Linked DNA regions of Homo sapiens: region 1 is linked to region 2. A link means that fine-mapping ties the variant in region 2 to the expression of a gene that starts in the linked region. Tissue or cell type: prefrontal cortex. Region 2 holds a variant in brackets; the other region holds the start of a gene. All regions are shown on one strand. Distances are between the middles of the regions.

Evidence for each region. PIP is the estimated chance that this variant, and not a neighbour inherited with it, causes the effect.
Region 1: it holds the start of EFEMP1, and the variant in region 2 is fine-mapped to the expression of EFEMP1 in prefrontal cortex (ROSMAP, PIP 0.91).

What each region holds. Positions count from the first base shown.
Region 1 is chr2:55,919,044-55,927,230 of GRCh38, forward strand. It overlaps EFEMP1 (EGF containing fibulin extracellular matrix protein 1), which reads right to left and starts at 4,739. Exons shown (of 12, transcript NM_001039348.3): 1 at 4,668-4,739; 2 at 3,856-3,896; 3 at 3,317-3,404. The coding sequence starts at 3,397. RefSeq lists an enhancer at 4,299-4,798.
Region 2 is chr2:55,947,556-55,955,742 of GRCh38, forward strand. It overlaps LOC105374690 (a long non-coding RNA gene), which reads left to right. Exons shown (of 9, transcript XR_940109.3): 2 at 684-801; 3 at 4,304-4,684. It also overlaps the pseudogene RN7SKP208. Among named protein-coding and RNA genes, the nearest start is that of EFEMP1, 28 kb to the left of the region's middle. RefSeq lists an enhancer at 4,077-5,276. The variant G/A (reference allele first, on the strand shown) is at 4,594.

The sequences.
Region 1 (8,187 bases), 29 kb before region 2:
CAGGGCAGAAGGGAAGACTTGACAGAGGAGGTGACAGTAAATCAGGCTTTACAGGATGAGCAGGATTTTTCCAGGTGAATGTGGGAATTCTAGGAAGAGAGGCTATTGTGACAAAGGCATAAAATTTTTGAAAAGGGAAGGAGCTGCAAGGAGTTCTGGGTAGGTGGAGGATGAGGTTACAGAGGTAGGCAGGGCCAAAACAAGAAAGCCTTTCTTTAGGAATGGAAGCCTGAATTCTACCCTGAAGGTCAGTGAATCTCAAGCTTTATTGTGTCTAAGGATCATTCAGGGTTCTTGTTAAAATGAAGATTCCTGGGCCCACCCAAAGGATTTGATTCTGTAGGTCTGGGTAGGGGGCCTGGAATCTAAATTCTTAGCAAGTATCCCAGGCGATTCCCATACAGGTTGTCTAGGAACTACTTCTTGAGAAATGTTGCTACAGGCGATAAGAGGCCTCTGAAGAATTTTTAAGCTCAGGAAACAATCTGATCAGACGCTCATTTGAGAAAGTCACTGTAAGGAAGAAGCCCAAGGAAGGATTGAGCAAAAGTGGAGTAAACAAACAAATAAACTTAAATTCTTTTAATATAACTGAGAGCTGCTTATGTACACAATGGATGCTTGACAAGGAAATAGCTGAATGGAAGCCCAGAGATCCATTTAGATATTTTACTGATGTCTGAAACTTACTGGAGCGAGAACTAAATTCACTTTGTCTCTCAGACTAATTTTTTTCTTGTTTCCCAAACAGTGTTAAAGGTACCACTACCTTTTTCGAAACCCAGGATTCCAACTTTAACATCAGTGCTGAATGCTCCACTTATTTTCCTTCCATCTCTGCTGACTTTGTGTCCATTTCTACCATGTCTACTAAGAAAGGCTTTTGCTGGCCCATGAGTAGGCAAGGCCCCGCATCTCTACATGCTGCATACAGACCCCATGATCTTTCTTGTGCTCTTGGTTATGTTGCTCCTCTCTCTGAGACCTCACAGTGACCTGCAGATCTCTCATCATCACCATCTCTGGGTTCTTCCCACTACCCAGTTCCAGCTGATCTGACCTTATCACCACCTGGATTGGTCTCAGGTGCTTTCAGCTCTAGCTTTTGATTATGCCACTCTCTGACTCAGGTGCCTCTTCAGCCTTTCTAGATCAATCCAACCAAGGTCATCACTTCCTTCAAGAACCAGCACAGAGTTCTGTCTCCTCTAATATGCTGGCACCAACATTAATCACCTCCTTGCTTTTCTATTTCCTTGGCAATTTGTATAATCTGTATAATAGTATCATTTGTCCTTGCTTAGGAACTTTGTAGTTTTCAACACTGTCTTCCCAGGCTAAATTCTCCAAGAGGAGACTGAATTTTCTTAGTAAACAAACAAATTCTTTTAATAGTGATGAGAATTGCTTATGCAGATAGTTGTTGAGTAAACAGCTGAATGGACACCATCTTTAATATGGAAGAGGACTATGAGGCTATTATGTGGATACGAGCCCATTCTTCTGAAAAGTATCTTTCAAGCCAGGCAAAAATGGCAGTTCACTTGAATAATTTGTATGGTAAATAGAGAAGACTTGCAATTTGTTTTAGGTATTTACTTCTAGACATTTAATGTCAGTGTACTATTAAGTAAGCCTAGACTGAGTTTAGCTTCACCACTTGGCTATGTAGCCCTAAGCAAGTTAGACACTCTCTCTGATCTTCAGTTCTACCATTAGTGGAAGGAAGATGATGCCACTTACCTTACACATTGCCGCAAGGATCAAAGGAGATCGTGTCTCCACAGCGGGATACTCAGAAATAGTTATTATCTTGTCCTTTAACCATGAATTATTAGGCATACAAAATTTAAAGGAGAATAGGCCCAATCTTAGCACAAAAGGGTAACATATCTGGAAAATTTGTTACAATAATAATGAACCCTAGTTAGTGGTCTTAAAACTATCATGTTTAAGCCACAGGGAACCTTCTCTGGTAAAAATGAGGAAGATTTAGGTGATTAGCAAAGGGAAGGGCATAGAAGATAAGCAACTGGAAAAGAAGTAAAATCTTTTATGAGATGATTATAAAAGTGGGTAGTGAATTTAATTTTAGCTCCCTGAGAAGGCAGTAAGTTTAGTCTGAATAACAAAACATTTTCATTTTAAGATAAACAGCACATGCCTTCATTTTTCTTGCTTAATTTATCTTCAGCAGAGGAAGCAACTGCATTTAACATGAAGTTAACAAAATATTTGTATTAAGCTATTTTATTTATAGTGGATCTGAACAACAGAAAGGAACATTTGCCAGATGAATACTAACATTCTAGGGATAATGTGGTACCAAAAAGTGAGATAATGTTTATTATCAGTAATTGACATTAGTTCATTTTTAAGAGTTTTCTTTTCAAAAATTTTTCACATTCTTTCGAGTAGGATTACTTAATTTTAAACTGGGAGCAGTAGAAAAATGTGCTTTTCATATTCCAATCCAGGACAAATGTCATTTGCCTAACACTGATTAAAGACAAGAAAACACAGAACAGAGGTGCAAACAAACTCACCAGAAGTGAAGTCAGTACTGTCCTTCTCTGTTCTCACCACAACTATTTGTAGCAGTGGGAGGGGTCAGGTGATCTTTTTAATATTTTATTAAACATTGGTTACACCTATGCAACTAACTAATCAAATATTACTTGGAAATATCAGAGACGCTAATTAGAAAATGCAAAACGGAGTTGCACACATTACGTTTTAAAACCACTTTAGCCAATATGCATCCTGGTAACACATAAACTGTTGTCTGCCTTTATTTATTAGAATTATCAAGTTATACAAAAAGAATGAATATATAGCCTTTATAAATTCAATAAAGGCCACTTACTTGAGAATGCATGTCATGTACACAAAGAAGGCCATGTGTCTTTATGGTGTTTAACGTTCTTACTTGACTTGAGTCTTATTCTGCACGTATTGGTTTTATCTGCATGTGGTAGGAGTCCAGGTTTTCCAGTTCCTTACACCCATTAATTTGTTGAATGTTTTGGAAACATGTAACTTTCTTTGGTTTTAGTTTTTGAACGGATCCCATTTTTAGCCCTGCACAAATGATTACATGTTGGTTCCTATCTTAGGTGGTGAGCCCAATGAACTTTTGAAAGGATCAAGGGGGCAATTTACAACGAATCTTAGATATGAAGCATGAATGAAGTGTTGTTTAATTTATCACCCTCAGCAGAGTATAGCCCAAATACACTGGCAGGGGTGTGTAAAGTCTTTTTTTGTCACAGAATCCCGCTGAACCGTACTTATTTCAAATTCCATCACCCCTTACCGTGTACGTGATGGTTTCTTCGGTGTCCTGTGACTTGACCAGCGCCAGAGTCAGCATAGTTAGGAAAAGGGCTTTCAACATTGTGAATCTCAAAGAAAATACAGGACAAACTAATGTTTAGTATCTGCTGCGGGGAAAGTAACAAAACTTTAGCAGTGAGCACAAGCGAGGAAAGGAGGGTGGGAGAGGCTGAGGCTCCACCATACTCAACTTCCAATCTGCTTTCTCATCTCCCCTCCCCCTCCTGAACCTTCTCGGTAGCCAACGAACGAGGCAGCAAAGACGTAAAAACTGCTGTAGAATTGCATTTCACGTTACTCCATCCTGCTACGCTGTTTACATACAAAAGACATTCAGCGTGCATTTTATACTGCACCTACAAAGCAGGCTGCAGAAAGAGGGGGTCGAAAGGAAAAAACAGTAATCCATTTCAAAGGGGACGGTGCATTTCCTGCCCCCCAGTCCCACACCCCGGGGGATGGAGGTGGGGCTGCAAAACTCTGTTCTCTAGAACGTTAAGGCTTTCCCAGTATACTCACCTTGAGCTAGCAGAGTTCCTTGCACAGCACAGCAAAAATACCTGTGAGCCAATATGAATTGCCTTGGCCTCAAGCTTTTTATTTTTTAAACAAAATAACAAAACAAAACTCGGAGAGCAATCTTCCAGTTCTAGTAGAATACTAGACCTTCTCACATGTCTCAGAGCTTCTCACATCCCCCAGCACAAACTCTCAAAGTGGCATTTCCACGCCTTTCTCTGCGCACAGCTTTGTTTAAAAGTCCCAGGTTGTGTGGAGGGGCAGCCCAAAGCGACTGATTCTCTTTTGTCTTATCAGTCTGGGTCCCCGACACGCTACCTTCGGTTTCAGGCTGCCTAGGACCGGAACCAGGGATCGCACCGCAGCCCAAGGTACCAGTTTCGGGCGGGCGGCCTGGCCCGGCAGGGAGATGAGGTCCCCTTTCTTAACAGCAAGCTAACGCGGCGGTCCCCTGGAGCTGCTCAGCGTCCCAGCTTCTAACCAGCTCCTATGGAATCCAGGTGCGGCTTAAATCTCGCACACTGGTCCCCTAAACTTTCAAAACCACGTTTATGGGCAAAGCCCTGCCGGCTGGTTGTCGGCGCGCACACACATGCCCATCCCAACAGATGTCACCCGAGTACTCGCACTTGCTGACAGATCGCATTCCGAGGCTGCACACCTCCACCTCCCTCTCTGCCCGAGACACCCTGCACAGTCCAGGGCAGTTCTCGGGTACTCAACACCCCTCAGCTCACCCCACCTCACTCTCCCGCGCGCGGCCCAGTGAGTACTGGGCTCGCTCGGGGCGACCCCCCGTTGGGGGCTCCTACCTGTGCGGCCGCGCTGCGCTCCGGGCCCGGGCAGCGAGGGGAGTGCGCAGGGGAGGGCAGCCCCGTGGGTCTGATCTGGCGAAGTCCGGCAGCGGCCGCGGCGGCAGGAGGAGGAGGAGAAAGGGAGGGAAAGGGGGAGGGCGAAGGGGGGCGGAGGAGAGAGCTGAGGGAGGCGCGAGCGCTGAGCCCAGCGTTGCGAGCCCGGCGGTAGAGCGCGCAGCGCAGCGAGGTCCGCGCCCCCTGCTCCAGGGGCCCTCTTTGCCGCCCCCGCTTGCCCTCCCTTGCCAGCTCCTCGTTTCCCAGACTCGCGGGGACCCCACGCCAGAGAGGACACGTTGACATGTGATGTCCTGGATGCGCTTCAGCCTTGGGGATGCTCCCACTCTCTAGTGCGTTTTCTTCTTCTCTGAGGAGGGGAACACAGCATCTCCCTCAGAGACCAGAGGGTTCTAGAAACTGCTGTTACTTTTTTTCCCAATAAGTGAATGCTAGGAGAGTAAATTAACCCCCATTCATAGAACTGTTTCCTTTACCTTTTCTTTCGGATTTTTTTTTTTTTTTGAGGAGGTGTCTGCTTCCACAAATGGAGAAAAATGAGAATTCATCCATTCAACAAATATTTGCCACCTACTGTGTGCTTAGTGTTGGGAATAGGCCAAATAGAACTTGCACTAACAAAATTGTGAGGTGGGGTTTGTTTTATGGTCTCTCAAACCTCCCTTTATGATAACAAGTGTTGGCAAGAATGGAGAAAAGGGAATGCTTGTATGCTGTTGGTGGAATGTAAATTAGTACAAACATGATGGAAAATTGTATGGAGGTTTCTCAAAAAACTGAAAGTAGAATTATCATATGATCCAGCAATCTCATTTCTGGGTATTTACTGGGAAGATTTGAAATCAGTGTGTTGAAGAGACGTCTGTACTTTCATGTTTATTGCAGCACTATTCACAATTGCCAAGATATGGAATCAACCTAAGTGTCCATCAAGGGATAAATGGATAAAGAAAATGTGGCATATATGTGTGTGTGTATACAAATATAATATATATTATATATATAAACACATATATATATAAAATATGTACACACATATATTTTAGATATATATGCGTTTTTAAGGCTAAATAGTATTCCATTGTGTGTGTGTGTGTGCGCGCGTGCATGTGTATATGAGCCCATTCTTCTGAAAAGTATCTTTCAAGCCAGGCAAAAATGGCAGTTCACTTGAATAATTTGTATGGTAAATAGAGAAGACTTACAGTTTGTTTTAGATATTTACTCCTAGACATTTAATGTTAGTGTACTATCAAGTAAGCCTAGACTGAGTTTAGCTTCACCACTTGGCTATGTAGCCCTAAGCAAGTTAGACACTCTCTTTGATCTTCAGTTCTACCATTAATAGAAGGAAGATGATGCCACTTACCTTACACATTGCTGCAAGGATCAAAGGAGATCGTGTCTCCACAGCGGGATACTCAAAAATAGTTATTATCTTGTCCTTTAACCATGAATTATTAGGCATACAAAATTTAAAAGAGAATAGTATTCCATTTTATGTGTCTGTGTGTATGTGTGGAATACTATTTAGCCTTAAAAAAGAAATTCTGTCATTTGTGACACCATGGATGGAAGTGGAAAACATTATGCACAGTGAAATAAGCCAAATGTAGAAACACAAATACCACATGTTCTCAAGTATCTGAAAGTAACTTAAAACAATTGAACTCATAGAAGCAGAGAGTAGAATGGTGGTTACCAGAGGCTAGGGTTGCAGGGAATGGAGAGATAACAGTCAAAGAGTGTAAGCCTCAATTAGATAGGATGAATAAGGGTTGGGTGCAGTGGCTCATGCCTGTAATCCCAGCACTTTGGGCAGCCAAGGTGGGCAGATCACCTGAGGTCAGGAGTTCAAGACCAGCCTGGCCAACATGGAGAAACCCCATCTCTACTAAAAATACAAAAATTAGACACGTGCCTGTAATCCCAGCTACTCGGGAGGCTGAGGCAGGATGATCGCTTGAACCCCGGAAGGCAGAGGTTGCAGTGAGCTGAGATCATCCCTCTGAGTGACAGAGTGAGACTCCATCTAAAAAAAAAAGAGAGGAAAAGTTTGATTTTTTTAAAGTTCAATTGCACGGTGTCGTGAATAAAGCTGATAATTGAGTACTGTATATTTCATTATCACTAAGAGAGTAAATTTCAAATGTTCTCATCACAAAAAATGTCAAATATTTGAGGTGATGGATATATTAATTAGCTTGGTTTAATTATTACACATTGTATTAAAAAATCATAACACCTTGTACCCTATTAATATATACAACTATAATTTGTCAATATATAATAAAAAGTCTCCCTTTTTATGGGTTTCTTTTTTCATCTATAGCTTCTCTTTTCTTCACTTATTGACTTAGTGAAATCTCCAATACTGCTCATTCAAAGTTGGGCATTTCACTTTCACCTTTCATAGTGGAATTTCAGGAATCTGGAGAGAAAAATCTTTTTTTCTGTTTTTATCAAATCATACCACACAAATTGCAGTTACCTCTGAAGGCTCCAACTCTAAAGTCATACTAATAGCTTGCTTCCAAGGCAGCTGTCTTCTAAGAAGCAAATGGCCAAATACAATTTCATGAATGAGAAAACTTACAAACTGAAGGGGTTAAAACTTTGACTCTGTCCTTGAGCAGGAGGCAGAGCTCAGGAGGAGAGGAAAAGCTCCTTTCCTTTCCTGCTGACTCAAGGTGGGAGGGTGGTAGCGACTGCAGGAGAGGGAGGTTATCAGGTGGAAGCTGCTCTCTTTATCTCTGGGGTATCCAGTGTGGGTTACCTAGACATTGCCAGTTTGGTAGCAAGCCACACAGTATTGGACAAGATCAGAGGGGAGGTGTACAACCCTCCCTAAACCTTACTTGAGTATACAGAGTTTTGGTAATTGTATCAAATATTTTTACTATCAAAATTCTAGTGTTTTCCCCCAAGTCATTAATGACCTCCAGATTTTTTTTAAATGGATCTTTACTTTTTGTACAGTAAGAAGATCTGTGCACATGGTTTTTCCTGTTTCTCTTAAACTCTTTCTACCTGTTCCCAGCCACTTTTCCAGAAAAATGGGGTGAAAACTCTCAAATTTATATCTCCAGCCTGGAACTGTTCCTATATATCCAGCTGCCAACTTGCTATCTTCATTTGGACATCTAATGGATGTTTCAAACTGAACACAACTGCTGTTATCATCCCCCAACCTACTCCACCCACCTTCACCATCTCAGTTAAAGCAGTTTCATCTTTCTATTTGCTCAGATTCAGGACCATGGAGTCATCCTTGATTTCTCTTTTTCTGAGATATCCTGCATTCTATCCTTCAGGAAATTCTGTTGGCTTCACCTTCATGATATATCCAGAATGGAACCACTTCTCATCACCTCTTTTGCAACCACTCTGGTCTAAGCCACCACCATTTTCCAACTGTATTATTGCAACATCCTCCTAATTGGTCTCCTTGTTTACAACCTTG
Region 2 (8,187 bases):
AGAAATACATTTGAAATTAAAAGTGTATGGAAGAGACTTGACCCTCTTTGGCACTTCTGGATTTTATAGTATTTTCCACTTACAGTCAGAGAACTTTGACTGTTATTGCTTAGCCTGGTAATTATAGGTGAACAAGGCAGTTAGAGGTTGGATGGAAACAGGATTGCTTTTACAGACATATTAGAAGTTGCTTTATGGACTACGTTTCTGAAAGCTTGTTTGCTTGTTATTCTTTCCTCATTAAAGAGAATTCTAAGAATTCTGAGAATTCTAGAATTCTAAGCAACAGTTGCAACATCTTTCATATGCCCAGTGTCCAACACAGTGTTGGGAACATAGTAGGCATTCAATAAACACCTGCAAATTAACGGAAAAGGGAGCGTAGGAAAACACCACCCTGTTTATTTTAACTTTCTGGTTGATTGCATTCTAGATAAATGACAGTTTATTATAGAGAGAAAAACAGGATCTGATGGAATCTAGGAAAGATGTGGAAAGGGGAGTTTGTCCAGCAGGTCAGGAAATTTGAACCCGTTGTCAAGGGTTCTAAATGTTTTTCCTGTTCAATGTTACACATCATTCATTTTTGTTTGTTTTTATGTGAGCTTAAACTTTGGGTAATTTCTTGATTAGTGCCTTTTAACTTTTTAATTTAACATCAGGTTTGTTTTTTTTTACAACAGCTGCCCAAAATATCCCTGAAAAATGAGGGCTGTGTTCACCTTTAATACTTAAAAATCACTTGGAGGCAGTTCAATTGAGCATGAGTATGTGTTTGCAAGAAAGTAAAACACAACCAGAGTGAGTAACCTCTGTTCTCTGAGGCTTATTGCATATCATTTATGCTTGAAAAAACAGTGAATTTATTTGTTTTAATGCCCCAAACTTTGACTTAAGAGTTAAAAAAAGCTAGCTGACCAATATAGTAAAAATGGCAGCAAACTTACTTTTAACTGGGATGGTATTTAATCTTACATCTCTTTATCACAGAACATGTTGAAAACAGAAATAATTTTCTAATGTTGGAAGCACATTTAGAATGTTTTCTCTGGTAATATAAAATGTAGGCTGGCCAAATTCAGTGAATAACCAAAGTTCCCAAACCCACCCTGGAGATAAAGAAGAGTTATTTTTTTAGCTTAAATTATCCAAATAGCTTATCTTTATAATCCCATGACATTCAGTAATTGCTCAATCTTCATCTGGTCCCTGCTGCACTGTGAACTGAGCTATATTAATGAAATGAAAGGATTTAAGGAAATAGTATGCTAGGAATCAGCAATGAAAGGCTCATTTTACTTTAAAAATGTTGTTTTTAAATTAGAGATGATACATGATAATTTATTTAAACCTGAAGAAATCCTGATTCATCTTCTCAAATATCTATATTTTGTTGATTATTCCATGGAGATTTTACTCTCTTGTTTTATATTTTCTCTAAAGGAGTGGGTGGGTCTTAGCTTGATTTGATGTTTCTTCCCAGGCCACCAATAAAGGCAGGCTTGTTTCCCAAGTGATTTTTATTATCTTTCTAGAAAAATGCTGATGACAATAACTTTTTAAATTACCCTTTGTACTGAACTTCTTCATGCCTTCCTAATCAAATATGTTAACAGCCAATTATTTAAAATTTAAGAAGTAACTTTGAGTTAAACAAGGGCCTCTTCCTTAAAAATGGACCCTAGAAAGCATAACAGAGAATATAAGACATGTTTAGTTATTTTTTTAGATTCAGAGTTTGATTAGAGAGAAAGTGACATTGATAAAATGGCCTTTCAGTAATTAAGAACTTTTGTTTGGTCCTTGGCATTGTGCCATACACACTGTGGGGTATAAAAGCTTATGATGTGGTTACAGTCACCAACTTACAGTCTAGATAACATGAACTTACAGTCTAGATAACATAATCATATTTACACCTGAACTTCCAGCAATTAAACATACAACTAAATGCCAAAATGAGTAGTATAAATAGCAAATACTATAAGAGTTCTTAATGCAGGTTACCTATCAGTATAGGCCAGTTGACTTACACAGTGGAGTCACATCTTACTTAGGGGTTTGGTACTAAAGTCAATATACAATATGAAAATTATGCAAAGTCAATATCCTTGAAAGCCTATTAAACTGCTCATAAATTTTAGTATATCCCATCACAAATATGTGCTACATTAGATACTAACACACTCTCTCTCAGCAAGTGCTGTACAGTTAGTGTTTCCTTTGCTGTAGACACAGATCACTAAAGAAGTGGGCTTGGCTTTATCAGCATCTGGAGCTGCTTAGACTACAAGGGGCACGTGGGGAGTGAATGCTCCTTCAGTGGAATAGACGGCAGAACTGCCTACACTTTACAGTTCTTTTACTCACATCCTTTCCAATAATCATGTAGAGGCAAGTTTACATAAAGTGTGTACATGATGTGTTCCATTTTAGATAAATTACCTGCACTCTTGCCTTCTCTTTCTCTAGCTGTAGATGGTAAATGTTGATTTGTTTTTATTTGGCTGTATTTAAGATTCATGTAGCATACTTAAATCAGCATATTATTTTTCCATGCTTATTTTAAAAATAAGACCAAGGCTGTCCTAATTAGGACCTTTGTATTCTCCTCTATAATTTTCCTATGTTTTTCTTCCCCTCCTTTTAGTTTCATGGGAGAAAATATACTCTACCTATTCTATAGCCAAAACTACCACCTGTCCTGGAACTCACTCTTTCTCATTTTCTTTAGGACTCCACCCCCTCATCCCCAAACTGAATAACCAATTAGCAGATATTTACAGAGCATCTACTATGGTGCAAATTATTGGACTAAGTTTGGAAAAGAAACTTTGAAGTGCATCAAAAGGGAAGACTGGGACATTCAATTGCACAAAGTACCATGTTATAAGCACCAAGCTGGTGATACAGAGAGTCAGTACTGTGGTCATTTCAGAGAAGGGAGACACTCATAGCCTGGAGTGAGTGGCTGAGAAAGTCCAGGGAAGGGGCTCGGGACTGAGCCAGGCCTGGAACCTTGGGTAGGATTAAGACAAAGAGAGCAGGGTGCATTCATAATTCCATTCATTCAGACTGAGATACATGAGTGCTGCCTGGTACTGGTCCTCTGTGAGCTCCTGGTCTAGCGATGGAGACAGACAGTGAAAAAGATAAATTTCAACAATGTGGCAAATGTGATTATACAGGGATTTGAACAAAGTCTTGTAGGGGCACAGAGTGTGGAGGAACCCTGTTGGATTCTGATAAGAGGTAAGAAAGGACAGGTCATTTGGGCGGCACTTTAAAGGTAGGTAGGAGCTTCCCAGGGCACAGAAGGGAGAAAAGCCTCTTTGGATAAAAGAAAACACTGCTCCCAGGAATAAATCTGGAACGAATGAGAAGCCCACCATGGCAGAGATGAAGTGCTGGATGTGAAGGGTGCGGCACAGGGGGAAGCAGACTGTGAAACATCTTCCATGACTACGGGAGGATTTGCATTTCACCTTCTAGGAAAAAGAGAGTGAAAAGAGAATTGGAAGCCACAACATGCCATTATAAGATTTGTTTTCTGACAAGAAAATGCATTTAAGCCTAGTGGCAGGGAGACCAGATAAGAGGTTGAGGGCTACACAAGGGCAAGATTGTGTTGAATTCCTCTTGGTATGCCCAGCACCTAGCACATAGGTGTGCTATATTTTACTGAATTGAGCCTTTGTGTTGCCTATATAGTCTAAGGAAGGGCTGAGAGCAAACTAAGGCCTTAGCAATGGAAGTAGAAAGAAGAGGTCAAATTTGAGTGAGGTTTGTGAGATAGATTCCACAGGGACTATTTTTTTGATCAGATGTGGTGGGAGGGGATTAGGAAGAAGAGAAAGTTGAAGATAATGCTAATGCTTCTTAACTTGGGAGGCCAGATAGATTTGTTATGAAATAAAATAGAAAACACAGGAGCCATGATGGGATTTGGACTCTCTTTTGGAAGTGGCTGTTTTGTTTAAAGGGCCTGTGGATTTGTCCAGCGGGCAGTGGGAAGCATAGCTCTAAAGAGTGGCATTGAGCTTAAGGCCAGGGATACAGATTTCACAGTAACAAGCAGAGAATAGATGGACTGGGAGCAGATGAGACCACAGTGGAATGGCCACTCTCTGGGACTGGATGAGGACTGTACTGAGTTGAAGAGTCCCCTCCCTTCACCGCCCCGGGATTTCATGTCTACCCAGAACCTAAGATTCTTACCTTATTTGGGATTGTTTGGAGGTTCTAGCAGGGGAGTGCAGCTACTTGTATATCCTTGACCAAAGACTGGTCCTCCTCTATCCAGATGGTCACCTTCTTCCCCCGAGTGCGCAGCTTCTGGAGGGATGCACATGGAGCAGTGAGGGAGGAAGAGGACACCTGCCTAGCCAGCCAGATCAGCCGAATCAACCCTGGTGATCAATGGAGTGACAGATGTTGCAGCCATATCGCCCTCATATCCTGTCACCTTATTTGGAATTGGGTCTCTGCAGTTGTAATTAGTTAAGTTAAAATCAGGTCATATTGGATTAGGGTGGGCCCTAATCCAATGCCTAGTGTCCTTGTGAGAAGAGAAAACAGAGACACAGACACACA[G/A]TGGAGAAAGCCATGTGAAGACAGAAGCAGAGATTTGAGTAACGCATGTATAAACTAAGGAACACAAAGGATTTCCAGGACCTCCAAAAAGGTAAGAGAAGACAAGGAAGGACCCTCCTTATGGCCTTCCGAGACAGCATGGTTCTGCCAACCCTTGATTTTAGACTTTTAGCCTCCAGAATTGTGAGAGAATATGTCAATATGTCTGTTGTTTTAAGCCACCCGGGCTGTGGTATTTTGTTATGGCAGCCCTAGAAGATTAATACAAGGACCATGGATGAGCCCTGGAACCTGACAGTGAAGGGTAGCAGGAAATGAGAACGTGAGAAAGGGGCAGAGAAGGAACATTCCCAGAGGTAGAGAAGGCCATGTGAGTGCATGAGGGGAGTAGCACAAGAATGGCTTGATTAGGAGAGACGACTTGTGGTGAGGCATGGTTTAGAGATAAAGTCTCAAAGATGTTTAGAGCCAGCTGAGGTGCACTTCCGTGTCAGGAACAGCCATATATGGTACATGGGCAGCCTCTGATGGTCGGGGGCATGCAGGGGACAGGATGGTTCTGGGCTGTTTCCACATCTCCAATCTTCTGTCTCTTCCCTCCTCTTGCTTCCAAACTCATGCCTGTCTCCCCTATTCTGCAAAGGACAAAGCAAATGACCCTGGGTCTAATCTGCACCCACTGCCTCCAATTCCTCACCACTCACCCTCCAGGACTTGATTTCTAGCTTTAGTTTCCCAAGTAGTCTTTAACTTGTTAACTCCTGTGCCTTTTTGTTTCTCCTTGTTTTCCTTGACCTCAGTGCATCTCTGCAGTACTAATATTTCCGATCTTCTCTGCCTTGTCCGAAGTTTCTCTTCATATGACTTCTCTGCTGCTATATTATTTCAATTCTTAAATTACATTTCAGTCCCCCTAGGGTTCATTCTTCCTGCTGCTGCGTAATGTGGACTAGATGATTTTCTTGGGTTAGCAATGACTTCTATGATTCCCTCCCTCTCTCCCTCAGACAATTTATATAACTATTCATTGAATGAATTAATTATGAATTAATTCAGTAAACAGTAATGCCACAAAAATTTCTTCACATTTGCCCTCTCTCAGACCTAATATAATTTTGGTTAGGAATATTAAGCATCAGTTCTAATCCATGTCTGTTTAGAATTCCTCTTGTTTTATTCAAAATGTTTCCTTAAGGAGCTTATTGAAGAAAATTTAGAAAATACAGAAAAAGAAAGAAGAGAAAAAAGCATCCAATATTTCCTTTCATCTTTTTTTTTTACATGAAGGGTTTTCTTTCATTTTTATAAGCAAGCATTTTTATATATGTATGTGTATCTATAATATTGGCTTATTTTCTGTTTTTTAATATTATAAGCATTTTTATGTTATTACCAATGTTCATAGGTATTTCTCATGGCTACATAGTAATCTATTGAGAGATTATATAATTTTTTCCTTAATCATTTTCCTGCTGTTCAACATATATGCTGTTTCTGTTTTTCTATTAAAAATAATGCTGCAGTAAATATCTTTGTGCACAAAATTTTTCCTATTGTAATTGTATTTAAAATAATATCTCCCTCAAAGTGGAATTTTTGGATCTGGGGTATAACCATTTTACATCTTAATATATATTGTCAATTTGCTTATATGGGGTTCTATACCAAATTGCACATCAGCAGTTTGTAAGTACTTGTTTTACCACCGCCCTTAAATGCTTACTTTAATTTTCTGTTCTTTAAATACTTGCCTTTCTTCCTGCAAGAACATTGATGATGTAGGTGTTCTTAGTGACGAGACCTACAATTTGTATATTTTTATAATATATATCTCTCTATATATTACAAAATACATAAAATTATTATATATAGAGAGAGAGAGAGAGAGAAAGAGAGTTTCTGTTAGAAACTAAGTTGACAAGAATCTGGCTTTTACTAACAAAAGCATGTTTACTTGAAAGCAGAATCTTAAAGAAAAAAGAAAAGATCTGAAAAGAAAATTTATTATGGTTTAGAGGCAGTTTCTGAATCTGTGGGATAGCATTTCTCTGTGATTCCTCTGCAGAATAAGAAAACATTCTTAATTGCTTAATTTTAAGCAGAAAAACAATTCCAACAGAGAGAGAATAGTTTTCTTTATGGAGATACGATATTCACGTATCCTTATGGAAAATATCTTCCCAAGGGCATGTACAGATGAACATTTTCTGATATGCTTGTTATCTGCTGGCCACATGAAGTGACTCTTTAGCAAAGCTTACATGAGAGATTTGTGTATTGCCCTAATGTAGGCATGTGTAGCCTGTGGTGTGTAGGATTGGCTCAGAACATTAATTAAATTCTTCCTGCTATTTTATACAGAATGTACTGTCAGTTTATAGTGTCTGTAGAGTTCTTTCAAAGAGTCTAAGATCTACCATTTTATAGCAAACAGTCCATGTCAAGTCTGATTTCTGAATCACTTTCTCATAATTCACTGCGTTTCTGGTTAGTGATACTTGAAGAAAAGTTAGAGAAAAGATAGGTGCTTGATAATACATAACTGGTATGTTCTGTATTCCCAGGTTTTTGAAAAATCAAACCAGTGGTGATATGCTAAAAGCTAAATTTTGTAAAATGTTAAACATTCATGAAAGAAAAGCTAGGTTTCCTGCCAGCCTTGCGGTCAGCAGCAGTACTCTGGCCTGATTACTTAAGCCGATGTTTTTCCTAAATCAGTCATGAATCAGTAATTATCAAGTTTTGCAATACTAGGCAATTCTCTTGAGAACAGCAAATGATTTGTAATGTTAAGTTGATAGCTTTTTTAAAAAAAAAAACGAAATAATTTGGCTGCTCTTGATGGGTTTCCCTGGGCACTGGGCAGACCCCTATTGATTTAATGGGCTTTGTCTGTGGAAGCTTGGTAGATTTATCTTTCTTACACGATCAAATAGCACATATTTGTTTTCTTTCTCCACAAAAATAAGAATGCTGCTGGTGTGTAGTATATTGGTTTCGCTTCTATTCATTTGGCTTAACTACTTAAACCACAGTTTAGTCACAAAATGGAAAAAAATGAGAAGTCATAGAAACAAAATCAAAAATCAAGATTTTTTGCTTTATTTAGTTTCTTCCAGCATGTTTTGGAATGACCTGCTGGTAACTGTTTTCTTCTCCTATAACATGTTCTCTTTTGTGTATGGGGATTATAGATCCTAGAGTTGGATCTATAAGGGACTTATAGGGACTTTGTGAAAAAATTTTAATTCAGTCCCCTGATTTTTGAAGCCCATGGGAGTTTAAAACCTGTATCAGTTACAGAGCCCAGAATTGGTTTAATAGGGATCCAAACATGGGCTGTTTTTCTTACACAGTGGCATCGTTTCAGAGACAGGATACCCGGAGCTCAGCGAATGACATTGTTTGCAATTTGCTTTGAGGTACTGCGTGATGCTGGGATTTTTTTTTTTTTCAGTATACTTTAAGTTTTAGGGTACTTGTGCACAATGTGCAGGTTCGTTACATATGTATACATGTGCCATGTTGGTGTGCTGCACCCATTAACTCGTCATTTAACATTAGGTATGTCTCCTAATGCTATCCCTCCCCCCT